Homo sapiens: one gene and its partner. The protein of the gene in region 2 purifies or fractionates together with the protein of the main gene of each other region. This does not show direct contact. Each region holds a gene or a part of one and is shown on either strand. Other genes may lie near its edges.

What was found. The genes of interacting proteins can lie anywhere in the genome.
Region 1: the proteins of KRT23 (region 2) and GRIPAP1 purify together in Homo sapiens (affinity purification with mass spectrometry; one large-scale study listed by BioGRID and IntAct). This does not show direct contact.

The regions. Positions count from the first base shown.
Region 1 is NC_000023.11:48,994,996-48,999,663, forward strand, and holds part of GRIPAP1 (GRIP1-associated protein 1), read right to left. Parts: intron 4,510-4,668; coding exon 4,443-4,509; intron 4,305-4,442; coding exon 4,243-4,304; intron 3,186-4,242; coding exon 3,159-3,185; intron 2,363-3,158; coding exon 2,255-2,362; intron 1-2,254. UniProt on the Homo sapiens protein: Regulates the endosomal recycling back to the neuronal plasma membrane, possibly by connecting early and late recycling endosomal domains and promoting segregation of recycling endosomes from early endosomal membranes.
Region 2 is NC_000017.11:40,934,084-40,939,363, reverse strand, and holds the start of KRT23 (keratin, type I cytoskeletal 23), read left to right. Parts: upstream 1-1,717; 5' UTR 1,718-2,018; intron 2,019-2,093; exon of another isoform or gene 2,094-2,410; 5' UTR 2,411-2,760; coding exon 2,761-3,156; intron 3,157-5,280.

The sequences.
Region 1 (4,668 bases), on a different chromosome or scaffold from region 2:
CCCAGAATGTAAGCTACCCAAGAGTGGAGATCATTCTGTGCTGCTTACAACTGTATTTCCAGAACATAGAGCATGTGGTGGGTACTCAGTAACTATTTGTCGAAGGAACAATTAAGCTGAAATGTCTTGATGAATAAGGGGTGGTGGCAGGTTTAACGTAGCTCTCTCTGAGAGCACTTCCAGTTCCTGGGAGGAGTTGGAGGAGGAAGGGGACTATGTAGGAAGTCTCTACGACTAGCCCAGTGCTGGCCCAGGGCAGATGCAGGGAAACAAGCTGGATTTATGGAAGAATGTCTGCCCCTGCCTCACTCTGCAAGAATCATGATACCATGGAGGCTGGAGGCAGGAAGCAGTGAGGAGTCAGTCAGTGAAGCCAGCAGTTATGTGAATACCAGGGGCTCTGAACTAGGAGCAGGACTGGGGCACTGGAATGTATTAAGTAAAGGAGTGATGTCATAAGATCTGCAGGTCAGAACAGCCTCTGTGGTGTGAACTAAGTAGAAGAAACTAGAAGTGAAGAGACCAGGGAGGCGGCTGTAGAAACAGCAGATGATAAGTGGTAGAGGCTAAGGCAAAGCAGGGCCACAGGGTGGATATAAAACTTTTTTTTTTTAAATTGAGACAGAGTCTTGCTCTGTCGCCCAGGCTGGAGTGCAGTGGTGCAATCTTGGCTCACTACAACCTCCGCCTCCCGGGTTCAAGCGATTCTCCTGCCTCAGCCTCCCGAGTAGCTGGGACTACAGGCACGTGCCACCACACCCGGCTAATTTTTTGTATTTTTAGTAGAGACGGGGTTTTACCACGTTAGCCAGGATGGTCTCCATCTCCTGACCTCATGATCTGCCTGCCTTGGCCTCCCAAAGTGCTGGGATTACAGGCCTGAGCCACCACGCCCGGCCATAAAACTTTTAAAAAGTCAAATATTTTAGAGGGAAGATGAGTTAATAGAAGGATAATATTATAACTAATGCTTCCATAGCTGATACTATGTGCAAGGCTCTGTTTTAAGTGATTTACGTACATTTATTCATTTAATCCTCACAAAAGCCCTGTGAAGAGGCAGGTACTGTTATTATCATGACTTCCATTTTAAACATTTGGGAACCAAGAACCAGGCAAGTTAAGTAACTTCCTCAAGGTTACAGTTAGTAAAAGGTAGAGCCAAGATTTTAATCTAGGCCTTCTGGTTCCAGAGTCCCTGCTGGTACCTACTACTTGCTCAACTGCCTCTCCTGGTATTGTACCTGCTTAAAGGTTATTTTCGGTTTTGTTTTTTTAAGGTCATAGGCACTATATTCTCAGATGGAGCCTTAGAAATACCATTTTTGGGCCGGGCGCGGTGGCTCACGCCTTTAATCCCAACACTTTGGGAGGCCAAGACGGGTGGATCACCTGAAGTCGGGAGTTCAGGACCAGCCTGACCAACATGGTCATTTTCTCTACTAAATGTCCTCTCCCACCCATGTCATTTTCTCTCATCTCTACTAAAAATACAAAGTTAGCCAGGCATGGTGGCATATGCCTGTACTTCCAGCTACTTGGGAGGCTGAGGCAGGAGAATCGCTTGAACCCAGGAGGCAGAGGTTGCAGTGAGCTGAGATCATGCCATTGCACTCCAGCCTGGACAATGAGAGTGAAACTCCATCTCAAAAAAATTTGCTGCCATGAGACTTTTTTCCTTAAAACACACTAAAAACATAGACAATTATCAACTGTGGATACAGAAGATAGATGAGGGAACAAAAGACAATGTCTCCAACTGCCCAGTAGATTTAGAAACAGACAGGACACTAAAATCAATGGGGAGATAGAATTAGTAGCTCCAGGATGAATTATCTGGAAGAGGTAGAACCCCAGGCTCATGTCAGATGAAGAGAAGAAAGAGAAAAGGGAAGAAGCTCGAACACTTTTCCATCCTATATTAAGCATAAGAACTCTGCCTAAAACCCCCCAACACCTTGGAGCACCACAGCATCAACCCCACATTATACACATGGAGACTTGAAGCTCAAATAAAAGGAGTGACTTGGCCAGGAACCAGGTGACCTCAGGGCTCAAAGCCTTCTAATCCCAGCAGAGTGAGCGGCCCCATCTGTCAAATTACTGCCCCCCAGCAGCAATCCAGGACCTGTTTCAGCACCACGGACAGTGCTCCAGGGCCAGACCCTGTCCAATCACTCTCTGCCGCTGTTAGGTTTCAGCCCAGATGACCCCTACCCCTCATTTCCCCTTTGACTATCCCAGGCACCAGCACCTTGCTGAACTCGGCCATTAGTGTGCTGTTCTGCAAACGGAAGTCCTCCTCCTGGCTGTGCAGCTTTGCCTGCAGCATCTCATTTTCACTCAGCAATACCTCGACTTCCTGCAGTGGCAGACAAGGGCCAGGACTCCAGCAAGGGCAAAAAGGATAGGGAGGTAGGGCAAAGAAACAGAGAGAGGGAGAAAATGACATGGGTGGGAGAGGACATAGGGTACAGAGAATGAGGTGATATAGGAGAAAGAGACATGGGGAGGGATAAAATGAGAGACAGGGAAAGGAAGATAAAGACATGGGAAGGTAGAGAGAAGGGAATACAGGGAGGAAGAGAGCGGAGGAAAAGACAGGAAGATAATGATTGGGGAGAGAGGAAGTAGAGATGGGGAAAGGGGGAGAGATAGAAAAGGGGAGAGGGATTGGGAGGGAGAGAGTGAAAAAGACGGAGAGAAGAACAAACAGAAATCAACAGGGAGAGAACAGAACAGGGAGAAGAGGAGGGGTCAGGAAAAGAAATGAGTTAGGAAGAGAGAGGAATGGGGTGGAAGAAACAAGGAGTTAGAGAGAGAAAGCAGAAAAAAGAGAAATCACCGAGACAGGAACAGGAGGGGGAGAGACAAAGAGAAGATTGGGAAGAGAAATGAGTCAGAGAGACAGGAACAGGAAAACAGACAGAGACAGAAAGAGACTCAGAGAAAAGAATGGAAAGAGAGAGAAGGAAAGAGACACAGAGTTAGGACAAATACAGGGAAACAAGGACAGATACAGCAACACATGGCAGTGAGGTAGTAGCAGATGTAAAGGCACACAAAGAAAGAAAGGCCAGTACAAGGAAATATCAGCATACAGAAATAGCCCACCAAGACATCTCCCAGTCACACTCACCCACAAGGGATCCCCTTACCTGAGCTTTCTTGCTCTTGCTCAGTGCCTAAAGTGGGGGTGGGTGGGAAGAGAGCTAAAGTGAACAGAGATGGACTGCCTTACTAGGATATGGAGACAATTGTGCCAAGCGTTTTGGGAGGACAAGGATGACAGGGGTTGCAGGATGGGAGCATCTTCAACCACAGAACATGTGTGACAATTTGGAGCCCAAAGGAATGATGGAATGAGTGTGTGAGTGAGTGAATGAATGCAAGTCTTGCCCTGGGGCCCCAGCACACATAAATCATCCTTTCTTGGAAGCTCTTGAGGCTGGTGGGGGGACAGGGGAGGTAGGGAGATGCCCTGGTATTTAACCATTTATGGGCTGGATCTCCAGACTCAGAAACTGTGGCTTCATTGCTACATCTGTCCATACATGTCTCTGTGGGTCCCTCCCACGCAGTGTGGAAACTGTCGCTCCCCTACTGGGCAGCCAAGAGCATTGCCAGCTTAGGGGAATCAGCATCCTACCAAAGAGAAGTGCAGCTTCCTGACTGTCGGATTTTCTGCATACTGTATTCGTTCATCCAACAAATATTTATTGAGCACATATTATGTATTAACATTGTGCTAGGTATGGCTAGATATGGGGACAGAGCAGTGACAAAGGAGCACCTCGAATGTCTTGAGGGGCCACAATAGGTTATATCCTATCTCATCTTTAGAGGATCTGAGAGGTGGGTTTGCTCTCATTTTCCCAACTGGACCAGGACAGAGATGGGAAGTAGGAGCACAAGGCAGGAGTGTGAGTAGAGGATGGGAGGCAGATTCGAGGTAGATTTACTGATAGATTTGAATATTTAATTAAAAGTCAGTGAATGAGAATGAGTAACTGAAATTAGAAATGAATTAAAAGTAAATTAAAATTAATCACTAAATTAAGCAGGATTAGGTAAAATTAGCAACTAAAGAGAATTCCATTGAGAATCCTTTAAATGACTACGTGAAAACAGCATGCAACATTAGGTCTGGTTCACTGTAGGTGCTCACTGGAGGGATGAATGAGTCAGATAGGTAGAAGCAAGGGTGGATGGGTAGGTGGATGGGTGGGTGGAGGGAGGTACCTTCTGAGCTTTGCTGAACTCCTTATCCAAGTAGGCGACCTTCTGTCGAAGACTGGTGAGTTCTGGTGTCGGGAAAGCAGGGAAACTCAGCCTCAGCCAGTGGCAAGAAACTGAAAGGCCTTCCTGCCAGGCCTCTGAGGGAAAACCTCGGACACCATTCCCCAAAGCCACCCCCATCTAATAAGGCCCTCCTGGCTCACCAACACCATTCTTGCGTAGTTCATCTGAAAGCTGGTAGTTGTTTGTCCGGAGTTCCAGGAGCTGAGCCTTTGGGGGAGGCAGGAAGGGAAAAGACTTGGTCAGGAAAGCGCCCCTACCCCTACCATGAGGGAACCAAGCCCCTAAGCTCCACAGACCTTACGCCCTCCATGTGCCTCTGTAGCTACTCCTTAAGACCTGTATGTGCTACACCCAAAGTGACCTTCC
Region 2 (5,280 bases):
GGTTGCAGTGAGTCAAGATTGCGCCATTGCACTCCAGCCTGGGTGACAGAGCAAAACTCCATCTTGAGAAAAAAAAAAAAAGAAGTTATGGGAAACCATCATATAACAGTACTAGAAGAGACTATTTCTCCCCAGTGCTCTCAGATCTCACCACCAGTTTTTCCTGGCCCTGGTCCTGCTATGACACAAGAAATCTTTTGCTCAAGGATAAGTCCTATAAATCAAAACTCCCACACATGGACATAAAATGAGACAGTGGCCAAATCTATGGGGTTGATAAGTCACTGCCACTCAGACATGCCTGAAATAATTAGAGAAGCATTAATTTCATTGTAGATTCTGGTGAGAGAATTTAGAAAAAGGCAGTGCAGCCCGGCCCTTGCACATGCTAAAGGTAAATGTTTTCTTCCTTGGTAAGTCTGGGTCCAGGCGAACAGGAACCAGAGCTGACCATAACTTTGATGACCAGGAACCGTCCACATCCACAGAACACTGGTTGCCACCACTCGCCAAACAAGTCTCTCTAGTTCCCTCATTTGCTCTATTTTTATCACTTGTCTCTTTTGTCTTTTTCTCATATCTGAGATGTAAGTGACTGTCGGCACTCTTTCTAAGCACTCTCCAAGCTTCCCTGAGGCTTGGAGGCTCATTTTTCCAGCTCGTGCACAGTGAAATAAAAAATATTCAGAGACTCTTCCCTGATAAGGTTTTGTTGTAAGACTGGGAGGAGCAGAGCTGGTGTGCTTTTGGGTGGCTTTATTTGTAATTGGAAAAGATTGGCCTTCATGGATGGTTAATCTATACCCAGGAGAGGCGTTTTCCTACTTTCTAGTTCTATAACTCACAGTCCTAAAAGGAGCAGAAGTTGATGGCATCAGGAGACCTGTGTTAAAATCCTGACTCTAAAAAGTTTATGATTGAGTCAACATACATTTGCAAAATACCACCAAGAAACCAGACTTTGGTGCTCAAAAATGGAAGACATAAACTCTGCTTTCAAGAAGCCTGCGGTCTCAGAAGGGTGTGGCAAATGCAGTATAATGGAGTGAAAGAACGGAGTGGACTTCATCCCAGGCACAGGAGGTGGCTGCGCCTGGCTAGGGGCTCCCAGCTTCCACCATGAGGTGGGATGCCAAGGTGTCTGCCCCTCTGGAGGACCTCGGCATCCAGAAGAGGCAGTTTCCTCCTAGAGGGTCACCCAACTCATGCAGGAGAATTCAGAAAATGATTGTTGAAGGAGGTAGCCCTTGAACTATAGAAGAGGTAGGGGTGAGTGACTTTCCAGGCAGGGAGGACAGCACAGACTCGGGCAGTGTCACCTATGAATTCATGTGCTCAATTACACTGTACATGCGAATCAGCTCTGGATCATTCATCCCTATGAGACCCTGATTCTTTGTCTGCAAAATGAAGACAACAACCCTTGCCTGGATACATAAAGAGTTGTGAGGATTCAATAAAGAATATAAAAGAGCTACACCAATTGGCAAGTCCTATTATTATGAAAGAGAAGTGTGGTACAGGACCTGTCAAGATTCAACCCAAGATAACAGTGCTATGTGGAGAAAGAATCTAGCCCTGGCTCTGCCACTAACCTCCCCACCACCATAGGCCTCAGCTTTCCTCATCTGTCCAATTAGTGGCTTGGAACCAGAAAGGCCAGAAGCCCTTCCTGCGCTGATATTTTATTTGTAAGTCCCCTTTAAATCCAACTGCCAGTAACTAGCACGTGGCTCCCGCCCCCAGACTGCTTCTTTATTCATTCCTAACCTTTACCTTGGCAGATGAAATATAAGATTCATCAACCACATTTGACAGCCCATGGCAGGTTTCCTGTTTTCCATCGTCCCTCTGCAGGTCACAGACACACAGAGCCCAGCCGTGGCAGGCTCAGCCGGGGTCCGGGGCTGCTAACAACGGCTACATTCCTCCCCCAGGGCCAAGGGAAATCCTGAGCGCAGGCCAGGGTTGTTTGGTTTTGAGGTGTGCTGGGATGAAAGGCACCCTGGAAGTGGAAGGTTCGGTCATTCATTAATTAATTACATCTATAATTGAGGGTTTGTTCTTAAGAGCGAGTCCTTTGAAAGTACTTTCCTTCAAACAGTGACTGCCACAAAGGCATCAGATATTCACCACCTTCTCGGCTGCCTCAGCACAGCAAGCTTTATTCTGGGACCTGAGATCCTGTTCTGAGCTGGCTTTCCCTTCTCCAGGCTCGCTCACCCTCCCTTTAGAGGTGGGGCTTATTGGGGGTGGAAAAAGGTGTGTGTATCTCTGTTGTTTAATGTCTGGTTTTTTGTTGCTGTTGTTGTTGTTTTGTTTTGGTTTTGGTTTTTGGTTTTTTTTAAGGAAATCTATACTACATCGAATATGCTTTCTTTTGGGTGGACTTTAACCTAACCCATTCCAGGTAAATGAACAATGGAAAAACTTCACGGCAAGATTAGAAAGATACCTGAGCCCAATACCCGCCTGATGTCGTGGGCCACACCTCCGGGTTACCAGGGGAAGGGAGGAAGCAAACTGTCATATTGATGTGGCTCTAAACAACAACAGTGTGCGAAGGCCCAGGGGCACTTTGGGATTGACCAAGAGGAAACACAAGTTGCACAATGATACAATCTTGTTGGTACAATTGTCAGAGAAGGGAACTCCCACAGCAAAGGCCATAAAACCATCCAGGGCAGTCTGGGGCGGCTCAGTTCTGCGGTGCCAGGGAGTGGAGCAGAGCTCAGCCCCGTCCCAAACACAGATGGGACCATGAACTCCGGACACAGCTTCAGCCAGACCCCCTCGGCCTCCTTCCATGGCGCCGGAGGTGGCTGGGGCCGGCCCAGGAGCTTCCCCAGGGCTCCCACCGTCCATGGCGGTGCGGGGGGAGCCCGCATCTCCCTGTCCTTCACCACGCGGAGCTGCCCACCCCCTGGAGGGTCTTGGGGTTCTGGAAGAAGCAGCCCCCTACTAGGCGGAAATGGGAAGGCCACCATGCAGAATCTCAACGACCGCCTGGCCTCCTACCTGGAGAAGGTTCGCGCCCTGGAGGAGGCCAACATGAAGCTGGAAAGCCGCATCCTGAAATGGCACCAGCAGAGAGATCCTGGCAGTAAGAAAGATTATTCCCAGTATGAGGAAAACATCACACACCTGCAGGAGCAGGTAAGATGCTGGGTGACCCTGGAGATCCAGATGGGGCTGCTTTGCCAGGGGACCCTCGGGAGGAAAAATGAGTCCAGAAGACAATTTCCAGGAAAATGGCATCAGCGCTTGAAGTAATTGTGCACAAAGGTTTTGGGGGATGTTTTCTTATTATATCTTAAATTTGGAGTGGGAAACGTCTGTTTTGTTTAATTAGTCTACTGTCCATGGATAATGTAGAAAAAGAAGGCAGCAAAAATGATAGAAGTGCTACAGACTGTTTCAAAAATGAGACTACTGATTTCTCACAGACCAAAAACATCTTTAAAATGTGAGGCAACCAGCTGCTGTTTAATGTCACTTATGACCCAACGATGTCATAGAAATGATAAGGGCTGGTGTTCATGCTGCATGCTCAGTGCACCAGGCATAAGAGAGTGTTTACTTTCTCATTACCTCAGTTCTGCTCCACCTCAAACTTTTTTGAACAATGTGGTTATCCATCGACAAAAGGCTGTTACACTATTTTGAAGATTATGCCTAAAAGTTGTCACCACACCAGCATATAGGTCATCATGACATCCCTAGATATTTCCGTTTGTGGGTTGCTTGCAGTAAAGTTGCTCACAGTTCTGACAATGGCATATTGCTAGAACCAATAATAATAAAATGAGCATAATTTTTAGAATCTGAGAGTTGAGATGGCTATAAAGACCTTGTTCAAAAAAAACCGAACTCTTTAACCAAACCTCAAAAAAGCTAAGCAAATACCTTCTGGGATGTCTCATAACATTAGCTAGAAGTAGAAGGAATCCAATCATCTCATAGGTTATGTTTTAAAGCTATCTAACTCCCCTCTTATATAAAGCAGTCCCAGAAAATTCCCTGTAAGACCATGATTTAACCTCCCCTAGAAAGGGTATCACAAGTTTCCAATATTTATATATATTATTTCACAATGCTCAGTCATCCTTGCTTGAATGTAGGAAGGACCAGTCAAGATAATATAAATCTGTCCTTGTAATGAACCCTAATTATTGAATAATCAACCTAATAACTGACTGTAATTACCTTAACTATATAGTGCATGGTTGTCTTTATGAAAAAAAAAAAAAAACAAGGTGACTCAACAGTCCTCATCATGTTTTTTTGTTTAATAAAGTTGCTTTGGTTGTAGAAAGGAGGAATTGAAGATTTTTGCAAATGGAGAGCAAAGGGAGACCATGACTCCCAAAAGAAATACAAGGTTAGAACCAGTCAAATAATTTATGAGCTCGCGGAAGAGATTTAAAAAAAAGAAAGGGAGGAAAGAGAGGGAAATGTTTACTGAGCACTTATTATGTACCTAGGCATCCTGCTGGATATTTAATACACATGTCAACACTATCCAAGAGTTTTCTGCAATGATGGAAATGTTCCATATTATTTTATTTGATTCTGCAAGAACCCTGTAAGGAAATGGAAGCTTGGAAAAAAGTGAAATAGCCATCCAAAGCCATCAGCAAGAAGCAGAGGTGGGATTCTAACTCAGGTCTGTTTCCAGTAGCCTCATAAATTTCACTACAGTGTAGTGCTGCCTAGCCCACCTCATATAAAAATGACACTTAGTATGAATAAAGATAATGCATTATACTTGCATCATTAACCACACATCACATACTTCATACACATTGTCTCATTTAATCCTCACAACTGTGTGGAGCAGGTATTTGTATTCTCAACTTACAGATAAGGAGACTGAGACCTAATCATTGTCTAAATCCTTTGGAACAGAATTGAGAAAAGTGAGTAGGTGCAATGGGGGGTGTGGGGAGCAACCTGCCCACCCTTCAGATGACCTGGAATTCTGGGTTCTGAGATTGAATAGGAAACTTCTTTGGCTTTGAATTTCACTCTTTTCTGGATTTTTACCTCTAACATTGTGTTTTCTCTACACTTGAAGAAAGAAACTCTTTAAAGTTGAGGTTGTCTATCTACCCCAACCTCCCTCATTTGAAGATGAGAAAACAGAGGTGCAAGGAGGTCCCACAATTACCTGGGGCTTATCCTTCCTGGACCTTGGTGAAATGCTCTGAGTGGATACAGTTCTCCCGTACCCTCACTTTAGGTATATTAAATATCACTCAAAAGGTTGATAACAAGTTG